Linked DNA regions of Homo sapiens: all the other regions are linked to region 3. The links come from fine-mapping of genetic effects on gene expression. A gene starts in region 3. Each other region holds a variant in brackets. All regions are shown on one strand. Distances are between the middles of the regions.

Region 1 (5,000 bases), 59 kb before region 3:
TGATGTAGGAAGTAAAATTAACAGGATTTGGTGATAAGTTGGTTATGGAGATGAAGGACAAGGAAGTGTGAAAGATGACTTCCAAGTATGTGACTTGTATGACTGGACGGCCTATGGTTGTATTTACATTAGAAAAATGTAGGACAACTAGTAGAGGATTGTTCAAATTTAAAATGTACAGTCATATAATTGGATGCTACTTAAGCAGGAAAAGCTGTGTAGATAATGAACGATGGGCCGGGCACAGTGGCTCACATCAGTAATCCCAGCACTTTGAGGGGCCGAGGCAGGCGGATCACGAGGTCAGGAGATAGAGACCATCCTGGCTAACACGGTGAAACCCCATCTCTATTAAAAATACAAAAAAATTAGCCGGGCGTGGTGACGGATGCCTGTAGTCCCACTTACTCAGGAGACTGAACCCAGGAGGCGGAGCTTGCAGTGAGCCAAGATCGCACCACTGCACTCCAGCCTGGGCGACAGAGAGACTCCGTCTCAAAAAAAAAAAAAAAAGATAATGGAAGATGCTTATATTCCATTTGGGGTGGGAAAAATTACAAGCAGTGTGGGCAAAAAATATACATTCATGGAAAAGTATCTGAATGATAAACATGAGAGTGAAAGAATAAAGTCAAATATGTGAGTTGTTTCATTAAATAATAAACTAAATTATTCCTTCCTCTAGATCAGGGGTGTCCAATCTTTTGGCTTCCCTGAGCCTCACTGGAAGAAGAAGAGTTGTCTTGGGCCACACATAAAATACACCAACACTAACAATAGCTGATGAGCTAAAACAAAAAAAATTGCAAAAAAGATCTCATAAAAGAAAGTCTACAAATTTGTGTTCGGCTGCATTCAGAGCCGTCCTGGGCTGCATGCTGCCCGTGGGCTGTGGACTGGACAAGCTTGCTGTAGATCCTCTGAGATTGGGTTAAGTAAAAAAAAAAAAAACCCAGGTTTATGCTGAATATAAGAAGTATACATAAAATAATATGAAAAAGAAAGGTTGAAAATGAAGTGACATTTAAAGAGGCTGGGCGCTGTGTCTCACATCTGCAGTCTGAACACTTTGGGAGGCCTAAAATTACTGTAGATGGGAGGATTGCTTGAGCCCAAGAGTTTCAAATCAGCCTAGGCAACCAAGCGAGACCCCGTTTCTATAAAAAATTTAAAAAACTTAGCTGGCCATGGTGGCAGCCTGTGGTCCCAGTTATCCAGAAGGCTGCGGTGGGAGGATCACTTGAGCCTGGGAGGTCGAGGCTGCAGTGAACCCTGATCACGCCACTGCACTCCTGCCTGGGTGACAGACTGAGACCTTGTCTCAATTTAAAACAAATAAAAAAGGCAACTACAGGAAAGTTAAACAACCTGTTCCTGAATAACTCCTGGGTAAATAAAGAAATTAAGGCAGAAATCAAGAAGTTCTTTGAAACCAATGAGAACAGAGAGACAATGTACCAGAATCTCTGGGACACAGCTAAAGCAGTGTTAAGAGGGAAGTTTATAGCACTAAATGCCCACATCGAAAAGCTGGAAAGATCTCAGATCAACATCCTGACATCACAATTAAAAGAACTAGAGAAGCGGCTGGGCGTGGTGACTCATGCCTGTAATCCCAGCACTTTGGGAGGCTGAGGCGGGTAGATCACCTGAGGTCAGGAGTTTGAGATGAGCCTGACCAACATGGAGAAACCCCATCTCTACTAAAAATACAAAATTGGCTGGGTGTGGTGGCACATGCCTGTAATCCCAGCTACTTGGGAGGCCGAGGTAGGAGAATCACTTGAACCCGGGAGGTGGAGGTTGTGGTGAGCTGAGATTGCGCCATTGCACTCCAGCCTGGGCAAGAAGAGTGAAACTCTGTCTCAAAACAAACAAACAAAAACAACAACAAGGAAATAGAGAAGCAAGAGCAAACAAATCCAAAAGCTAGCAGAAAACAAGAAATAACTAA[G/C]ATCAGAGCAGAACTGAAGGAGATAGAAACACAAAAAAACCCTTCAAAAAATCAGTGAATCCAGGAGCTGGATTTTTTGAAAAAATTAACAAAAAATACCTCTAGCTAAACTAAAGAAGAAAAGAGAGAAGAATCAAATAGACACAATAAAAAATGATAAAGGGGATATCACCATTGACCCCACAGAAATATACAAATTACTATCAGAGAATACTATAAAGACCTCTACACAAATAAACTAGAAAATCTAGAAGAAACGGATAAATTCCTGGACACATACACCTTCCCAAGACTAAATCAGGAAGAAGTGGAATGTCTGAATAGACCAATAACAAATTCTGAAATTGAGGCAGTAATTAATAGCCTACCAACCACAAAAAGCCCAGGACCAGATGGATTCACAGCCAAATTCTACCAGAGGTACAAAGAGGAGCTGATACCATTCCTTCTGAAACTATTTCATAACAATTGAAAAGGAGGAACTCCTCCCTAGCTCATTTTATGAGGCCGGCATCATCCTGATACCAAAACCTGGCAGAGACACAAAAAAAGAAAATTTCAGGCCAATATCCCTGATGAACATCGGTGCGAAAAATTCTCAATAAAATGCTGGCAAACCAAATCCAGCAGCACATCAAAAAGCTTATCCACCATGATCAAGTTGGCTTCATCCCTGGGATGCAAGGCTGATTCAACATATGCAAATCAGTAAACATAATCCGTCATATAAACAGAACCAGTGACGAAAACCACATGATTATTTCAGTAGATGCAGAAAAGACCTTCGATAAAATTCAGCATCCCTTCATTTAAAAACTCTCAATAAACTAGGTATTCATCAAACATATCTCAATAATAAGAGCTATTTATGACAAACCCATAGCCAATATCAGTGGGCAAAAGCTGGAAACATTCCCTTTGAAAACTGGCACAAGACAAGGATGCCCTCTCCCATCACTTCTATTCAACATAATATTGGAAGTTCTGGCCAGGGCAATCAGGCAAGAGAAAGAAATACAGGGTATTCAGATAGAAAGAGAGGAAGTCAAATTGTCTCTTGCAGATGGCATGATTCTATATTTAGAAAATGCCATCGTCTCAGCCCCAAAACCCCTTACGTTGATAAGAAACTTTAGCAAAGTCTCAGGATACAAAATCAATGTGCAGAAATCACAAGCATTCCTATACGCCAGCAATGGACAAGCAGAGAGCCAAATCATGAATGAACCCCCATTCACAATTGCTACAAAGAGAATAAAATACCTAGGAATACAGTTTATAAGGGATGTGAAGGACCTCTTCAAGGAGAACTACAAACCACTGCTCAAGGAAGTAAGAGAGGACACAAACAAATGGAAAAATATTCCATCCTCGTGGATAGGAAGAACCAGTATCTTGAAAATGGCCATACTGCCCAAAGTAATCTTTTTTTTTTTTTTTTTTTTTTTTTTTTTGAGATGGAGTCTCGCTCCATTGCCCAGGCTGGAATGCAGTGGCATGATCGTGGCTCACTGCAACCTCCACTTCCCGGGTTCAAGCAATTCTCCTGCCTCAGCCTCCCGAGTAGGTGGGACTACAGGCATGCACCACCATGCCCAGCTAATTTTTTGTATTTTTAGTAGACACAGGGTTTCGCCGTGTTAGCCAGGATGGTCTCGATGTCCTGACCTCGTGATCCGCCTGCCTCGGCCTTCCAGAGTGCTGGGATTATAGATGTGAGCCACCACTCCTGGCTGCCCAAAGTAATTAATAGATTTAATGCTATTCCCATCAAACTACCATTGGCATTCTTCACAGAATTAGAAAAAACTACTTTAAAATTCATATGGAAACAAAAAAGAGCCTGTATAGCCAAGACAATCCTAAGCAAAAAGAACAAAGCTGTAGGCATCACATACCTAACTTCAAACTATACTACAAGGCTACAGTAGCCAAAACAACGTGGTATTGGTACCAAAACAGGCATATAGACCAATGGAACAGAACAGAGACCTCAGAAATAACACCACACATACACAACCATCTCATCATTGACAAACCCGACAAAAGCAATGGGGAAAGGATTCCCTATTTAATAAATGATGCTGGGAAAACTGGCTAGCCATATGCAGAAAACTGAAACTGGACCCCTTCCTTACACCTTATACAAAAATTAACTCAAGATGAATTAAAGACTTAATTGTAAAACACAAAATCGTAAAAACCCTAGAAGAAAACCTAGGCAGTACCATTCAGGACATAGGCGTGGGCAAAGACTTCATGACAAAAACACCAAAAGCAATTGCAGCAAAAGCCAACATGGATTCTAATTAAACTAAAGAGTTTCTGCTCAGCAAAAGAAACTATCATCAGAGTGAACAGGCAACCTATAGAATTGGATAAAATTTTTGCAGTCTACCCACCTGACAAAGATCTAATATCCAGAATCTACAAGGAACTTAAGCAGATTTACAAGAAAAATAAACCATCAGAAAGTGGGCAAAGGATATGAACAGACACTTCGCAAAAGAAGACATTTATGTCTGTAGTCTCAGCTACTCGAGAGGCTGAGACAGGAGAATTGCTTGACCTGGGAAGTGGAAGTTGCAGTGAGCCAAGATTGCGCCACTGCACTCCAGCCTGGGCGACAGAGTGAGACTTTGTCTCAAAAAAAAAAAAAAAAGGACATTTATGTAGCCAAAAAACATATGAAAAAACCTCATCAGTTGGGCGCGGTGGCTCACGCCTGTAATCCCAGCACTTTGGGAAGCTGAGGCAGTTGTGGTGGTGGGGGCCTGTAATCCCAGCTACTCGGGAGGCTGAGGCAGGAGAATCGCTTGAACCTGAGAGGCAGAGGTTGCGTGAGCTGAGATTGTGCCATTGCACTCCAGCCTTAGCAACAAGAGCAAGACTCCGTCTCAAAAAAAAACAAAACAAAAACAGCTAATCACTGATCATTAGAGAAATGCAAATCAAAACCACAATGAGATACCATCTCATGCGAGTCAGAAATGACAATTATTAAAAAGTCAAGAAACAATAGAAGCTGGCAAGGCTGTGGAGACAT
Region 2 (5,183 bases), 38 kb before region 3:
GTTGCCCAGTGCTTCCCGGGAGCAAATCACTTCAGTCATTTCCTCCCTGAGGAAGTTGCTAATGATGTGTTTGCTCTTCTGGGGAAAAAAAAAATCTTTTTTGGGTGGCACTTGCCTCTTGCATCATGGCTCTTATTTCCAGATGACCCATATAGACCCAGAGAAATGCTGAAATGACTATTTGGATCCACTGAGGGGGAGAAAGTGCATTGAGCTACTTGGCAGGCATGTGGGGAAGATAGTAGCCCAAGCGCTTCAGTCCCACCACTGTCTGGATGCAGCACCATGCTTGGCCCATGACATTCAAACTGTGGGGCAGAGTGCCCAGGCACAGCCGCTCATTCCTGTCGTAAATACCAGTGTCTTCATTGATGGTGGGCTGTGTTGTTTCCAGTGTTTTTGTGTATTGGATCTCATTTGATCCTTATAACCTGTGAGGTAGGCAGGTCATTTAGGGATAAGCATCGTCTTTATTTTGTAAATGAGAAAACTGAAGCCCAGGTGTGATTTTCCCCAAAGGACATCAAAACTATTGATACAGAGTCAGGTCCTTGAACACAGGTCTGTCTGGATCATTGACAGGATGTTATAGGCAGGATCTTGAAACAAACCTTTAACCCAAACCCAAAGAGACAAGATTTATTAGTTCACCCTTGAACCGAACCAAATGCTAAATTTTAAAATTAAGCTTAAGTTTTGTGTTTTGAATAACCTAGTATACCAGTTCAAACCAGAACTAGTAAATTTCCTGAATTTACCCAACTAAAAAATCTGGGTATTCTAAATTTAGTCAGGATCTTCTGTATTACCGCTTTGAGCAGAATACAGTAACCAGTTCTTTTAAAAACATACTGTTGGCCGGGCACAGTGGCTCACACCTGTAATCCCAGCACTTTGGGAGGCAAAGGTGCGTGGATTGCGTGAGTCTAGGAGTTCAAGACCAGCCTGGGCAACATGGTGAGACCTCATCTCTACAAATAATAAAATTAGCCAGGCGTAGTCCCAGCTACTTGGGATGCTGAGGTGGGAGGATTGCTTGAACTCAGGAGACTGAGATCGTGCCACTGCACTCCAGCCTGGGCGACAGAGTGAGACCCTGTCGCGAAAAACCCAAAACAAAAACCATACTGTTTACCTTCACGATTTCTTTCAAAGAATAGGACAGGGTCGTGTGATGTGAGATCAGAAGTGAAGACTGCTCAGCGGAGTTGTCGCCATCCTAGCATCCAGAGGCTGGGCCTTTGTTCTCCCAGGCACAGTTCCATTTTGACTCCACTGTCAATGAATTGATAGCAGAGCTCAGTATCCAAATGCATGTTTTAAAACAGGTTTTTACATTTGATTTCCCATTTCTCATATTTAGGTAAAACATTGTCCTATAAATTGGGGTTGCCACCTGATAGCTCTTTTTATGTGGCCAGGTGCCTCCATAAAATTAGATGCTTGAGATATCAGATATACCAGCTGTCCTGGAGAGAGAAAAGTTTCCTATCTTTTGCGCATTTTTCCATAAAGGAGTTTTTCTTATCTGAAGAGAAGTAATGGATCTTGTTTTAATGACTATTTTGTTTTTCCCTTCAGTGTATTCCACAACAGAAAAACGACAGTGACTGTGGAGTCTTTGTGCTCCAGGTAAAGAAACACTTGCTTTTCGGAACTTACAATGTGTGAATTGAGTCTGTTGGGTTGAGAGGGGAGAGATGGCAGTTCCTGTATGTGTATATGATGCTAGGTACGAGCAACGGAGTACTTTCCCTCCCCTTTATTGCTGAGGAGCAGTAGTTTCTGCATGTTCAGATGTTATCATTAGGAAGAACCACCTTCCAGGGATCAAGAGTGAAGTGTGGGTGTCATCCATGTCTCACTGGAGGTTATTAGTAAGCCACATTGGAGACTGACTTGAATTTGTCCATATCATAACCATTGGCATTTGCATAAAAAAAAAAAAAAAAAAACATTGGCAAGCAATCTGCAGGTCTTTGACACAGTGATTAGATTTTAAATAAGGTCCACGTTGAGAAACTGCCATCTTGTGCTGTAGATCTCCTTAGAGATCGAAAAGGGCTATGGAAAAAAATTCAGTTATACATATATTTATGTTGGAAATTACAGAATATGATGCATGAATTTAGAGATTTGCAAAGATCTTGGAAGACCGGTTCGTTTGTATACCTCATGCATGTTTGGGGTTTTATAAACAAATTCAAGTTCCCATTAAGGGCCATGATGGGTCTA[G/C]CTGCACTCCAGCAGGTTGCACTTTGGGAGGAATTGAGGCCTTTTCATCAGTTGCTGCTTTTCACAGTATTGGGTCAGGAGGGAGAGGAGATCCCAAGCCATGCACTAGCTTGGTCAGTCACCTATAATTTGGGTAAATGCTTAAAACAGTGTATTTTTACAGTAGTTTAAACAGACATGAAAATGCTGCCTTAGATCGGGGTCCCAAACCCCTGGGCCACGGACAGATACTGTCCACATTAGGTTCTCTTAGGAGTGTGAACCCTGTTGTGAACTGCAGATGCGAGGGATCTAGGTTGCTCACCCCTTATGAGAATCTAACTAATGCCTGATAATTCATCCTGAAACCAACCCCCTCTCCCCCAAGTCTGTGGAAAAATTGCCTTACACGTAACCAGTCCCTGGTGCCAAAAAGGTTGGGGTCTTCTGCCTTAGACACTATTAGGTCTGCATTTAGTAAAACAGAATGGGCTGGTCCACAACTCCAAGTGCCACTGAAGTGTTTCTGGGACCTTTTTTTTTGCAGTACTGCAAGTGCCTCGCCTTAGAGCAGCCTTTCCAGTTTTCACAAGAAGACATGCCCCGAGTGCGGAAGAGGATTTACAAGGAGCTATGTGAGTGCCGGCTCATGGACTGAAACTCAGCAGGGACTCTGGGAAGTCTGACCAAGTTGGAGCAGATGGTTTGTTACTTGAATCTCCAAACACTTAGTTGAATTTTTACAGATATTTCAGATCAGTGGTGTTGGGCCACTATTGTTACCTCAAATTTATTTTTTGCCCTTATTCATTTCTCCAGCTACCATGTACTATTGTTTAATGTTCAGTTTGGTTTCATTTTTAATTTTATGGTTCTGTGCGTCCCCCATATTTAATATTTATTATTCAAACGCATGCATATAGACAGAGCATGCAGTGAAGAGTATTAAAAAAAAAAGCTTAGTAGATTTGGTGCAGCTTTTGAAACTTAGTTAGACGTGAACTGAATACAGGTTTCAAATTTACTCCCAGAACCTAAAAATGCAAGATGTTTTTGATACAACATAACTCTGAGAATAGTAAGTGTTCCCTGGGGCATTAAGGGTAGCTGGGGGTGGTTTTGACAAATCCAGTCCTGTTTTACTTTACCAGCGGCAACTTTCACCAACTTCCCTCTCCAAGTGAGTCTTAGAGAGTGCAGTCCATTCCTTTTGAAGGGTGAGATGGAAGTGGTCGTAAACTGACTGGTGTCTTCTGTTTCTGGAGGCACACTTGTAAGCACAGTGGCTGCTTTGGGAGGAGTAAGGTGTGAGAAAAAGCAACCTTGGAGGCCAGTAACAATGACAGATTTCAATCGTGGTTTTAGGAATTATAATACGTGGCATACATCTCATAAAGGCTTTTGCTGGGATATTGAATTCCCTGAATTTTTCTGTTTTCGACCTGTTAAAAAAATCTTAACATCCATCAAACTAGTGGTCAAACAAATGAGAATGCAGCTGTTCTCAGAGTAATTTTTAAGTTGTCATTTCCCTGTGTTGCCTCCCAATTGGAAGAAGTTAAGGTTTACCAAATGCATTTCTATTTCAAGGGTATCTGAAACGTAAACATTCAAAACTGAAGGCTGACTGACTTGAGATGTTTTGCAGGTGGCTGGAGAGAAGAGGGAAGGTAATAGAGACAACTTAGTCCCATGGGAGCGCAGCAACCGTGTCAGGTTCTTTCTCCTGTCCCATTAGTGACCTCAGTAACATGCAGGGTACGTCTGGCTTCTGCATGGCCAGTGCTGACACTAGCACAGCTGTTCTTCTCCTTCTGTTGAACCTCATCTTCTGAAGAAAGGCCAAGTGGCCCTTGTCCATACACTTAGCTGCATTAGGATGAATATCACGCGTCTCACATCTTTAATCCAGCCTTTCGTGACATGTTGGAAAGATACATGTGAAACCTACCCAGTTACCCTTTCTGAATTGGGAGGAAAACCAACCAATGTATGTATGAGAAACTCAGAAGTCTGAATAGAAAAACAAAGTAAATGGCAGAAGATTCTCGAGTTTATGCCCGCGTAGGTTTGGAGTGTTGAAAAAGCTAAAATGTTTAGTTTCACTTGGCCCTGAGGTATGGTTGAGAAGGCTGACTGCCAGCAGTTGAGGATTGAGTCCGACCATGTTTACATGCAGGGTTCCCAACACCAGTGGTGACACTGGGAAGCAGCCCCAGCACTTTCCTCTCCTGAGTCCTCCAGACCCAAAATCCTTAATGTCAAACCAGGTCAGTGTTTCTTACTGTGTTTCAAGTCGTTAAAAAGACTGAGAGTAGAGGCACTTTATGCTGCTATAGGTGGGGTTCTGTCAGCGTTAGGAAAAAATGACAGTTTAGGGTAAGGAAGATCTCATAATGAGTTTTTCAAACATAATTATGCAAACATGAGATTTTTCAAAACATGCCAGAAATTTGCCTCTGATTTTTTTTTTTTTTTTTTTTTTTTTTTTGTGGGGGTGTGGTATACCAAAGTAGCCAGTCACTGGGCTGTCAGTTCAAAATGTCTTGTACTTCAGAGTGAGGAAGTGTTTCAGTTCCTCAGTGACAGAACCTGGCATGCAGAAGAGACAGAATTGTTCCTGTAAGAAAATCAACGCCGAGAGAGAGCTGCCCAAATCCAGTGACTCTTCCACTTCCAGTCTCATGCTTCATAGGGCACCTTGAGGTGTGCTGCCCAGTGTGGCTTAGACTAAATGTTGAGTTTGGGTTTTTTGTTTTTTTTTTTTTTTGAGTCAGAGTCTCACTGTCCCTCAGGCTGGAGTGCAATGGCGCAATCTTGCCTCACTGCAACCTCCACCTCCCAGGTTCAAGCGATTCTCCTGCCTCAGCCTCCCAAGTAGCTGGGATTACAGGTGTGTGCCACCACGCCCCACCGATTTTTGTACTTTTAGTAGAGACAGGATTTCACCATGTTGGCCAGGCTGGTCT
Region 3 (5,197 bases):
TCATTGTCTGAGTCCAGGTATGCTGTGACTGGTGTGCATGTACCTGGGATTTCTTAGCCTTAGGGGTGGCTGGCTGTGCAGAATCTTTGGATGGCTGGAGGCCCTGGGTTGGTTGTTTCTGTTTGCAAACAGCCCCCTCCTTTGTTAACCAGTGTGTCATATAACAGCAATCATTTTCTGTGGATGAATAATGAGGGAGATGGTAAGAAGCATGACCTGGAGTAGACTGCACCGCCATCCGCCTCTCCACTTTCCCTCTCTCACTGCATCCTTCCTTCTGACTGCGGCAGAGACAGGCCGAATCACTCCCCTGTGAGAAACCTCTGGATGGGGGGCCATCCCCTCACCACCCTGAGGACCAGGTCCACATTCCTTACTGTGGCTGACAAGGCCCTCCATAGCTTCCAGTGTCCCCTTCCCGCCTCCACTCCTGTGTTCGTGAGTAGAATTCGGTGCTCCAGAAACATCACGCCTTTCTGCAGCCCTCTCCTCTATTCCGTGCTGTTTCTCACCCCAGCTTCTTGGCTCACACGGTTTCACTTACCCAATACGCTAATAACATGGAGGTTAAGACCAGCGGTGGCATCAGGTAACCCGGTTCAAGTCGTTGCTCTCTGTCACTTGTTCATGGTGAAAGCACTCAATCTCTCTGAACCCCAATTTATACCTCAGCTTTAAAACAAGTACCTATCTCAGGGCTGTTGTGAAGATGAAATGAAGAAAATATGCAGACATAAGTGGTTGCTTTCTTTATCCATCTTGCTTAACTGCCCTAACCCCCAAGAAGTCTTCCCTAACCCTCCTTCTGAAGGACCCTGTGCAAAACTCTGCAGGCGCCATGCGCTGACTGTTGTCTGATTATTTCTCTGCCCTGCTTGGCTGAGGTCTCCCAGGCATGGAGTCCCTTTGAGATTCATCTCCAGCCTGGGTGGGCCCACTGGGGCCCATCTGTCAAGGACAGAGCAGGAGGTCCTCCGGAGAAGGTGACAACGTAGTGGGGCATCGACCATAACAAATGCGGGAGCTCCAGGGAACGACCCCCGCCCGCTGGCGTCTCTCCAGTCTGAGACCCCACTGGAGGAGCTGTCCATGTGGCTGCCTCTCGCCTTTTATCCCAGGGGACAGAGCCAACGCCAAGCATGGCAACCACCCACCTTAACCTAATCAGGATGCAGCCTGCTCATTAATTCATTCATTCATTCAGAGGGATCTGTCCGGGTGCGGGTCCAGCACGGGTCCAAATCCTGCATCTCCAGTAGCCTCCTGGGGGTCGGTCGTCGGGAGGGCTCGTGAGCGGAAGGCTTTAGGATGAAGCGACAGGGCCCAGAGTCGTGGAGATTGGACTGGGGGGCAGGGGAGCAGGCATTGACAACCACGCCGACAGGGGCATCCCGCGCGCCTGTGTGGGAGAATGTGTAGGGCAAGCAGCAGGGAGAGACCATCTCAGAGACAGGGGAACAGCCAAGCAGAAACCACTGTGCTGGGCGCGGGGGGAGGCCGGGAAAGACAGCACATCTGCGGGGCGGGAGGAGGGGAGGGAAGGGAGTAGAAACACTGCTCCCGCCAGCCGCGGGTGATGGGGACACGTGTCCAGCTCGCTGAGTCCGAGGGCCTGGGCCCGCTTTGGGTGCCCTGTTTCTCCGGCGCCCAGGTGTGTGCGCAGAACCGTGTCTGCTCCAGGGACAGCCGTGAACGAGCGCCGTCCGGAGTGGCAGGGCCATCAGGTGTGGCTCATTCCAAGAAAGGTCCGTACCTTCACATGTAAACTTCCTGGCAAAGCTGCTGGGTTGCCGCTTATGGGAGAAGGCGGCGGGCCCAAGGTTCGGCCCCTTTGTCTGAATCTGGCATTTGGAGCAGGCTTTAAGACTTCGGGAAAAGCCGGGCCCCTGTGCAACCACCAAAGGCTGCTTCTCCCGCCCTCAGGACTAAGATCTTGTTCCAGTCCTCCAGTCCTCGGGGTCTACTCCAGGGGTACAAGGTGAGAGTGGCTCTCCAGAGTCCATTTGCCTTTTGGTGCCGCACTGCATCCTCACTTTGACCCTGAGCGCTGCAGTAAGCCCTGCAGGGTGCTCCACCTTGAAGCACGGGAAGATCTGATGCTGGCCGCCTTCTTCCTTCGGTTGCCTGAAAGGGCCCGTGTTTATCCTTCGCTTCACAGAGAACGCAACACACAACATTAAACACACATAGAGAGTGAAAGAGAACAAGGCATCTTCATCAAGGAGGGCGCACCATTTAACCACCCGCGACCTTGCAGTGCGCCTCTGCAAAGTGGGGACTCCGCTCTGTAGCAGGAGATGGGGGTGTTGACGATTTTGAAAGTAGTTCTCAGTTTTCCGAGGCAAAGGTGTCTGGGGCTGACGAATGACTTTTGAGAAGAAGGAATGATGAGAAATGTCCTCATTACAGAACTTTCCCGGCCACACTGTGAGTCCCACGCAAAGACCCCATGACCACCAACCGGAGCGCTGGGTGCTCCCTGGCAGGGTCACCTTTGCTTTTTGCGCGCCCCCATGCCACCCCTGGGGCAGGAGGCCATCCTCTTATCCTGGGAGTGCAGGCCTGGCCCGAAGTGCAGCCCCCGAGGCCGGGAGCCGAGATTCTTCTCGGCTTCGTGCTCAGAGCTTTGCAGCGTGGCATGGTTTCCTCCTCTTGCCCTGTTGCTGTTTCATACCAGGGGGAACTGAGACCCAGTCGGGTTATGGGCCTCCCTGAGAACACTGGCCTCTAGCAGAAGCAGATTCAACCCCAGGCCTCAACCTGCGCCCAGACCCGTGCCCTGGAGTGGAGTTTACCCACTGCCGCCCTTCCTGGGCAAATGTCACCGCTGCCTCCGTCCCCCTAGGTCCGGGGCGGGTCAGTGCTTCGAGCCAGCGGACCCCGGCCTAGGGACAGGTGCCTGCGAGAATGCGGGGGGCGGCCCCCAGCTCCCCTGCCCTCCTCCCTAGAGGCTGGGCCTGCTGGTCTCCCGGCTGCGCGCAAGGTGGGAACGCGGCCGACTTGGTCCGCTCGCCCTCCCCGCACCCGCTCCTCTGGAGCCGCTGGGGCTGCGCACCGACTCACCCGCGCGGCCTCCGGGCTGCGCCTTCAGCGCTGGCGGCGTCCTGCCCGGCGAGGGCCAGGGTCCCAGGAGGCCCCGGAGGCGGCGGGACCGCAGGGCGGAGGGGAGGCCGTGGGAGCGGCCGGGCGCGCCTCAGCAGCGCGGAGACTGGGGCCGCCGCCGCCGGCGCAGGGCGGGCCGGGAGGGAGGAGGAGCGCGCGGGCGGGGCCGCCGTGTACGTCCCCGCGCTCCCGCCCGGCCTGGCCCCGCGGTCCCGGAGCGAGCTGGGGCCGCGCTGGGGAGGGTCCTGGGGGCGCCGCCGTCCCTCGGGCCGGGCAACGCCGGGCGGGGACCGGTCTCGCCCCGCCGCGCTCGGGCTCCCTCCCCGGCGGCCCCTCCTCGGCGAACAGCCTTTCGGCGCGGGGGGCTGTTAAACCAGACACCCCAGGCCACACTCCTCTCGTTCGAAATGACCATTTCGGGGTTCTCCGTGGCGGGGAGCTCCGCCGCCGCCGTCCCCCTTCCACGCGCGGGAGGTCGGCGAGGGCAGGGCGGGGACCCGGAGTGCGGCCCCCGGTCCTGCTTCGTGGCCCGAAACGCCTCGCAATGGAGTCACTCATGACAGGGGACTCAGCGCACGGGGCGGCTGCTGAGCCCCGCAGCGATCGGCGGGCGTGAGGGGTTCCCCGGCGTGGTTGCCCGGGAGCCTGTCAGCCCCAGCAGCCCTGACAGGAAAGGGAAGTCGAGAGGAGGCTGAGCGAACGGCCGCCACCCCCGCGGGACGCTGACCCGGGCGGACCCCGAGGGGCCTCTCCCCGCGCCAGAGCGCGGCGTGCGCGGGGAAGCGCGACCCACCGGGGTCGGCGACGGCGCGCGGGGCGGGCGCGGCGGTTCCCTCTCCTCCGCCCGTGCCCGTGGGATCGGCGGGCTTGTCGGGCTGGGAGAGCCTCGTGGAACCCGGGCATCCGGGCAGCAGCGGCCTCCGAGCCACTGTGGAGGCGCCCGGGGTCGGCACGGCGAGGCCGACGGGGACCTGACACGGTCACGCGGCGCCGGGGAGCAGGTTCGAGTGGCCGGGCGTGGCCGTGCTGCCCCTCCGCGTTCCGCAGGCGGCGACGGGCGAGCGGCCCTAGCGGGCTGCAGGGAGGACGCCGCGTGGACGGAGAGCCGGCGCCCGGGGGCCAGATCCCCTCCCGGGACGGGGCGCCAGGTCCCCGCGAGCTGCGGCGCGACGCGCGGGCACCCGTGTCCCACCCGGTGGCCTCGCCGCTGCGGGCTGCGCTGAGAGCGGGGTGGCGCGACGCGGTCCCTCACCGCAGGGGGAAGACGGCACCACCGCGTCCCGGCCGCTGGAGCTTCCCGCCCGCGCCGCCGGCCCGACGCTGCCCCCTGGCGGGAGAGCGCTGCAGGGGCCCCGGCGAGGCCGCAGGACCCGACCTCCCCGCCGGCCTCGCACTCCCGCGCCGCCGCCGAGGGTCGGCAGCCGGATCGCCCTCCGTGCCCCATAGCACCCCTCACACTAAAAACGACGACTTTATTAAGATGTGAGGTATTCTATACATACGATAAATACCAGGAAATTTAAGTACAGTACATGGAAGTATACAGTTCCATGAATTTTTTCCTTTATTTTTTAGATACAGGGTCTCTGTCGCCCAGGCTGGAGTGCGGTGGCACGATCTCGGCTCACCGCAGCCTTGAACTTCTAGGCTCCAGCGATCCTCCTGCCTCAGCCTCCCGAGCAGCTGGGACCACAGGCCCCGCCACCATGCCCGGCTCAGTTCCATGACTTCTGACACGCGAAACCACCAGGCTAGTCTCCCCCCGAGTTCAAGAAGTCCTCTCCTCCCAAAAGTACCCTCCTGCCCCTCTGCAGCTAACCCCTCACCTCCCCTCCGCCCTGGTTCCAGACAACTGCTCCTCTGATTTCTGTCACTGCCCTTTGCCTCTCTCGCAATTGCATGCAAGGAGAACCATTCACCGTGTGGTCTTTTGTGCCTGGCTTTCTTCGCTTGGCACCATGCAGCTGAGCGTCGCCCGTGTGGCGTGTGTGTGTTGTATTTTCCTCTACCTTGGTCTTGAGACCTCCCTGGAGAGCCACTGTAAAGGCCAACTCTGCCCTGACAGGGCTCCTGGGATTTGGGCGTGGGTGTTTGC
Region 4 (5,172 bases), 83 kb before region 3:
GAAATTCTGTACCCATTAAGCAATAACTCCCTTTTCTCCCCCTCCCTGTTGGTTTATAAAAGTTGACTTTATATAGTTTTTGCTTTTATCTGTTTGTTTTGGTCTGTTTTTATCCCTAGACATCTGGTGATTCTTGGTCATCCTTTATTTTTTATTTTATTTTTTTGAGACAGAGTCTTGCTCTGTCGCCCAGGCTAGACTGCAGTGGTGCGATCTCAGTTCACCACAACCTCTGCCTCCCAGGTTCAGGCAATTCCTGTGCCTCAGCCTCCCAAGTAGCTGGGATTACAGGCATGCACCACCATGCCCAGCTAATTTTTGTATTTTTAATAGAGATGGGGTTTTGCCATGTTGGCCAGGCTGGTCTCGAACTCCTGACCTCAAGTGCTCTGCCCACCTTGGCCTCCCGAAGTATTGGGATTACAGGCGTGAGCCACCATGCCCAGCCCGTCTAGTTGTTTTTAATAATGACCACTAAGAAACTGCTTGGGAACTCTTAACACATGGTGGAATGTGTCAACTTTGGGGTACACTGTGGGCCATTTTGTGGGGTAATATCTGTATCTTTATGGATTTTTTTTTTTTTTTTGGTGGACTAGTTATAGTCTCCAGAAAAGAATCTTCAGTCTGCTTGTATGGGTGAGACAGACTGCTAGCATTCTGGGAGATGAGTGGCAAAGTGTGTTCGGAGTCTCATATGCAGTATATAATTCCATCTTCAAATTATGCCTGGAGTCCCTGTGTCTGCAGACTTTCCATTTTACTCTTTTTTGCATTTTACATTTCACTATTTTATCTAAAGGATAAACTTCCAATCTTGGGTGGGGGAGGGTCACTTACCTGCCATGTGGAGTTAAGTAGGGATCTGGAGTCTAACTGCTTCTTAAACTTTAGGCCACCCTATTGAGTCATTGTTCAGACTTATTTTGTTGTGACATCCCCAAATATCACTATCTGTTGGTTTTTTCTCCGTGAATGATCTGTTTTCCCCCAGGGACTAGTCGCCTTCTTGTGGGTATAGAGCTTCTTGCCAGTCTTATGGAAGCTGAGTGGGGAAGGGCCTGGAGGGGAATTCACGGTGTAAACTCATTTATCCTCCTGGTATACCCCTGTGCTCAGCTGTACATGATATACTGGACTATCCTGGGTCATCCTCCTCAGAAAGTGAAACTTTCATCATCTGCCACGGTAGGAGATGGTATCTAGGAGTTTCACTGCTTCTTATTCAGACTTTGAGCCAGCGTTTCCTTTTCAACACCACCCATACTCCTGACTTTCATAGGTATATGTTGCCTCTGCTTCTGAGCCTTTCTGCTTTCTGAGGTCCTATAGCTGCTGCTTTTTTTTTTGGAGACAGAGCTTCACTCTTGTCTCCCAGGCTGGAGTGCAGTGGCGCAATCTTGGCTCACTGCAACCTCCACCTCCCAGGTTCAAGCAATTCTTCTGCCTCAGCCTCCCAAGTAGCTGAGATTACAGGCACTCATCATCATGCCTGGCTAATTATTTTTGTATTTTTAGTAGAGACGGGGTTTCACCATGTTGGCCAGTCTGGTCTCGAACTCCTGACCTCAGGTAATCCATCTGCTTCGGCTTCCCAAAGTGCTGGGATTACAGGCATGGGCCACCACACCTGGCCCTGTGTTCTCATGTGTAAAATGAAGGACGGGGAAGGGAGAGGAGACCAAATACCACTTAAGACTGATTCCATATTGACTTAATTATAATTTGCTCATAGCAAAATAATTAGTTTCATACAGCAGATTTTTAAAAGAGCAGGTACTTTTGTTCTGTATAGTCATGCACCAGTAGATATTTAGTAAATACATGTGAGGTCAGCATCTCAAGAGGGAAGCCACGCTCCTCTGTTACCAGTCAAAGACTCTGGGTAGCCATGCAAGGACAGGACTTTATCAAATGCTCTCACCCAGTGATGGTTCTGGATCTCAAGTGAATATAAGAAAAAAGAACCAACACAAGCATACACACATATACTGCAGGAACACACTCTAGAAGTAGATGGAAATGAATGACAGTCAAATCCAAACAATAACTTCCCCTCAGGATTTAATAAAATCTAATATTAGCGAAGGCTCTTTAGTCTAGAAAGAAAGGCACCAGTCACTGCAGGTAGAGTGGAAGAAAGACTATGAAACAGAAGCCAATATTCTAATTTCAGCTTGACAACAGTTTACTCAGAAGTGCTGTATTACCTTTCTGTGTATAAGTTTTCTCTGGGGAAAAAAATGGAGGACTGAACACATGTTTACCTCAGTTCCCTCTCCAAATCACACTGAGGTTACAGAAATCAGTTTTTTTTTGTTTTTTTTTTTTTTGAGATGGAGTTTCGCTCTTGTCACCCAGGCTGGAGTGCAGTGGCGCGATTTTTGGCTCAGTGCAACCTCCACCTCCCAGGTTCAAGCAATTCTCCTGCCTCAGCCTCACCAGGAGCTGGTGTCAGGTGTGAGGATTACAAGCAATCCTTGCACCTTGGCTTCCCAGAGTGCTGGGATTGCAGGTGTGAGCCACTGCGCCTGGTCGAAAATGATT[C/T]TTAAGTTTATTTTTCTCAGAGGCAGGTGTACAGCAAATGGCTTTTTGTTAGACTACTCATGTCCTCCCTCCTCTCCAGTTTTCATTGTGATGAAAACCTTGGTCAGATAAGATTTCATTGTGTCCAATAGTCTAAATTGAAGTATATGTACTCTTTTTTTTTCTCAATTTTCTGCCTTAGTTACTGTGAATATGTCTTCATGACCTTATTTTTAGATAGAAATATAACTTACTTCTCTTCTTTACAGCTGCATCCAGATCTCATTATGCATCAGAAAAATGAAAAAACAGAGGAAAATTCTATGGAGGAAAGGAATCCACTTAGCCTTTTCTGAGAAATGGAATACTGGGTTTGGAGGCTTTAAGAAGTTTTATTTTCACCAACACTTGTGCATTCTGAAAGCTAAGCTGGGAAGGCCAGTTACTTGGAATAGACAGTTGAGACATTTCCAGGGTAGAAAGAAAGCTCTTCAAATCCAGAAAACGTGGATCAAGGATGAACCCCTTTGTGCTAAGACCAAGTTCAATGTGGCTACTCAAAATGTTAGTACTTTGTCCTCTAAAGTGAAAAGAAAGGACGCTAAACACTTCATTTCCTCCTCAAAGACTCTCCTGAGACTCCAAGCAGAGAAGCTGTTGTCATCAGCAAAGAATTCTGACCATGAATACTGCAGAGAGAAAAATCTCTTGAAGGCAGTTACTGACTTTCCATCAAATAGTGCTTTAGGTCAGGCCAATGGTCACAGACCTAGGACAGACCCACAACCTTCTGACTTTCCCATGAAGTTCAATGGGGAGAGCCAAAGTCCAGGTGAGAGTGGCACGATTGTGGTCACCTTGAACAACCATAAGAGAAAGGGCTTTTGTTACGGCTGCTGCCAAGGGCCGGAGCACCACAGGAATGGGGGACCCTTGATTCCAAAAAAGTTCCAACTTAACCAACATAGAAGGATAAAATTATCTCCTCTTATGATGTATGAGAAATTATCCATGATTAGATTTCGGTACAGGATTCTCAGATCCCAGCACTTCAGAACCAAAAGCAAGGTTTGCAAGCTAAGAAAAGCCCAGCGAAGCTGGGTACAGAAAGTCACTGGGGACCATCAAGAGACCCGTAGGGAGAACGGTGAGGGTGGCAGTTGCAGCCCATTTCCTTCCCCAGAACCTAAAGACCCTTCTTGTCGGCATCAGCCGTACTTTCCAGATATGGACAGCAGTGCTGTGGTGAAGGGGACGAACTCTCATGTGCCTGATTGCCACACTAAAGGAAGCTCTTTCTTGGGCAAGGAGCTTAGTTTAGACGAAGCATTCCCTGACCAACAGAATGGCAGTGCCACAAACGCCTGGGACCAGTCATCCTGTTCTTCTCCTAAGTGGGAGTGTACAGAGCTGATTCATGACATCCCCTTACCAGAACATCGTTCTAATACCATGTTCATTTCAGAAACTGAAAGAGAAATTATGACTCTGGGTCAGGAAAATCAGACAAGTTCTGTCAGTGATGACAGAGTAAAACTGTCAGTGTCTGGAGCAGATACATCTGTGAGTAGCGTAGATGGGCCTGTGTCCCAAAAGGCTGTTCAAAATGAGAACTCATACCAGATGGAGGAGGATGGATCTCTCAAGCAGAGCATTCTTAGTTCTGAGTTGCTGGACCACCCTTACTGTAAAAGTCCACTGGAGGCTCCCTTGGTGTGCAGTGGACTCAAACTAGAAAATCAAGTAGGAGGTGGAAAGAACAGTCAGAAAGCCTCTCCAGTGGATGATGAACAGCTGTCAGTCTGTCTTTCTGGTATGCACTTTTCCTTTATTCTCCCTCAAACTCCAAGCTCACATTTGCTGTGCATTATCCTTGCTAATAAGAGTCCTATTTTTTTCTCCCACTCATGAATATTTCTTTAAACCAGTTAGTCTGCTTGAAGCCTTTTATATTGCTGCATTATGTAGATGTTCCATCATTTAATCCTTGTAGACACTTGCATTGATTCCATTTTTTTCATAAGCTAATAGTGCGATGAAATTATGTCTTTACATTTATACATTTGTTTCTGTAAGCTAAATTCTCATTATTAGAATTGATGGTGAAGGAATATTCACACTTAAAATTTTAAGATAATTAAGTTACCCTCCAAAAAGTTGAACCAGTTTACATTTGTTAAGCTTTGGCAGTCTTACAGATCACAGAGTTTTGTTTTAATTTGCATTTTTGAGTTTTAAGTTTGAACATCTGTTTCTGTGTTTATTGGCCACTTTTTTGTATGTGCATGGTTTTCCTTTGCCTATTTTTCTTTTTTTTGAGATGGAGTCTTACTCTGTCGCCAGGCTGGAGTGCAATGGTGAGATCTTGGCTCACCACAACCTCCACCTCCTGGGTTCAAGTGATTCTCCTGTCTCAACCCCCCGAGTAGTTGGGATTACAGGCACCCGCCACCATGCCTGGCTAATTTTTGTATTTTTAGTAGAGATGGGGTTTCACCATGTTGGCCAGGCTGGTCTCGACCTCCTGACCTCACGTGATCCACCCACCTTGGCCTCCCAAAATGCTGGGATTACAGGCGTGAGACACCGTGCCCTGCCCCTTTGCCTATTTTTCAACTGGATTGTTTCTGTTTTTTTTTTTTTAAT

What was found. PIP is the estimated chance that this variant, and not a neighbour inherited with it, causes the effect. A credible set is the group of variants that fine-mapping cannot tell apart.
Region 1: its variant is the best candidate, but not a certain one, in a credible set for the expression of PIGZ in tibial artery (GTEx, PIP 0.56).
Region 2: its variant is the best candidate, but not a certain one, in a credible set for the expression of PIGZ in prefrontal cortex (BrainSeq, PIP 0.89).
Region 4: its variant is the best candidate, but not a certain one, in a credible set for the expression of PIGZ in esophagus mucosa (GTEx, PIP 0.53).

The regions. Positions count from the first base shown.
Region 1 is chr3:196,906,957-196,911,956 of GRCh38, forward strand. All of the region lies in intron 6 of SENP5 (SUMO specific peptidase 5), which reads left to right. Among named protein-coding and RNA genes, the nearest start is that of NCBP2-AS1, 30 kb to the right of the region's middle. The variant G/C (reference allele first, on the strand shown) is at 1,955.
Region 2 is chr3:196,928,052-196,933,234 of GRCh38, forward strand. It overlaps SENP5 (SUMO specific peptidase 5), which reads left to right. Exons shown (of 10, transcript NM_152699.5): 9 at 1,582-1,632; 10 at 2,762-5,183. The coding sequence ends at 2,872. Among named protein-coding and RNA genes, the nearest start is that of NCBP2-AS1, 9.2 kb to the right of the region's middle. The variant G/C (reference allele first, on the strand shown) is at 2,236.
Region 3 is chr3:196,965,624-196,970,820 of GRCh38, forward strand. It overlaps PIGZ (phosphatidylinositol glycan anchor biosynthesis class Z (Gwada blood group)), which reads right to left and starts at 3,210. Exons shown (of 3, transcript NM_025163.4): 1 at 3,064-3,210. LOC124906255 (collagen alpha-1(I) chain-like) reads left to right here and starts at 3,510. Exons shown (of 3, transcript XM_047449439.1): 1 at 3,510-3,626; 2 at 3,773-4,589; 3 at 4,678-5,197. The coding sequence starts at 3,510. The coding sequence ends at 4,588. RefSeq lists enhancers at 2,787-3,322, 3,323-3,858, 3,859-4,394 and silencers at 2,930-3,379, 3,440-3,649, 3,660-3,719, 3,830-3,889, 4,000-4,319 and 1 more.
Region 4 is chr3:196,882,356-196,887,527 of GRCh38, forward strand. SENP5 (SUMO specific peptidase 5) reads left to right here. Exons shown (of 10, transcript NM_152699.5): 2 at 2,796-4,339. The coding sequence starts at 2,827. Among named protein-coding and RNA genes, the nearest start is that of SENP5, 17 kb to the left of the region's middle. The variant C/T (reference allele first, on the strand shown) is at 2,548.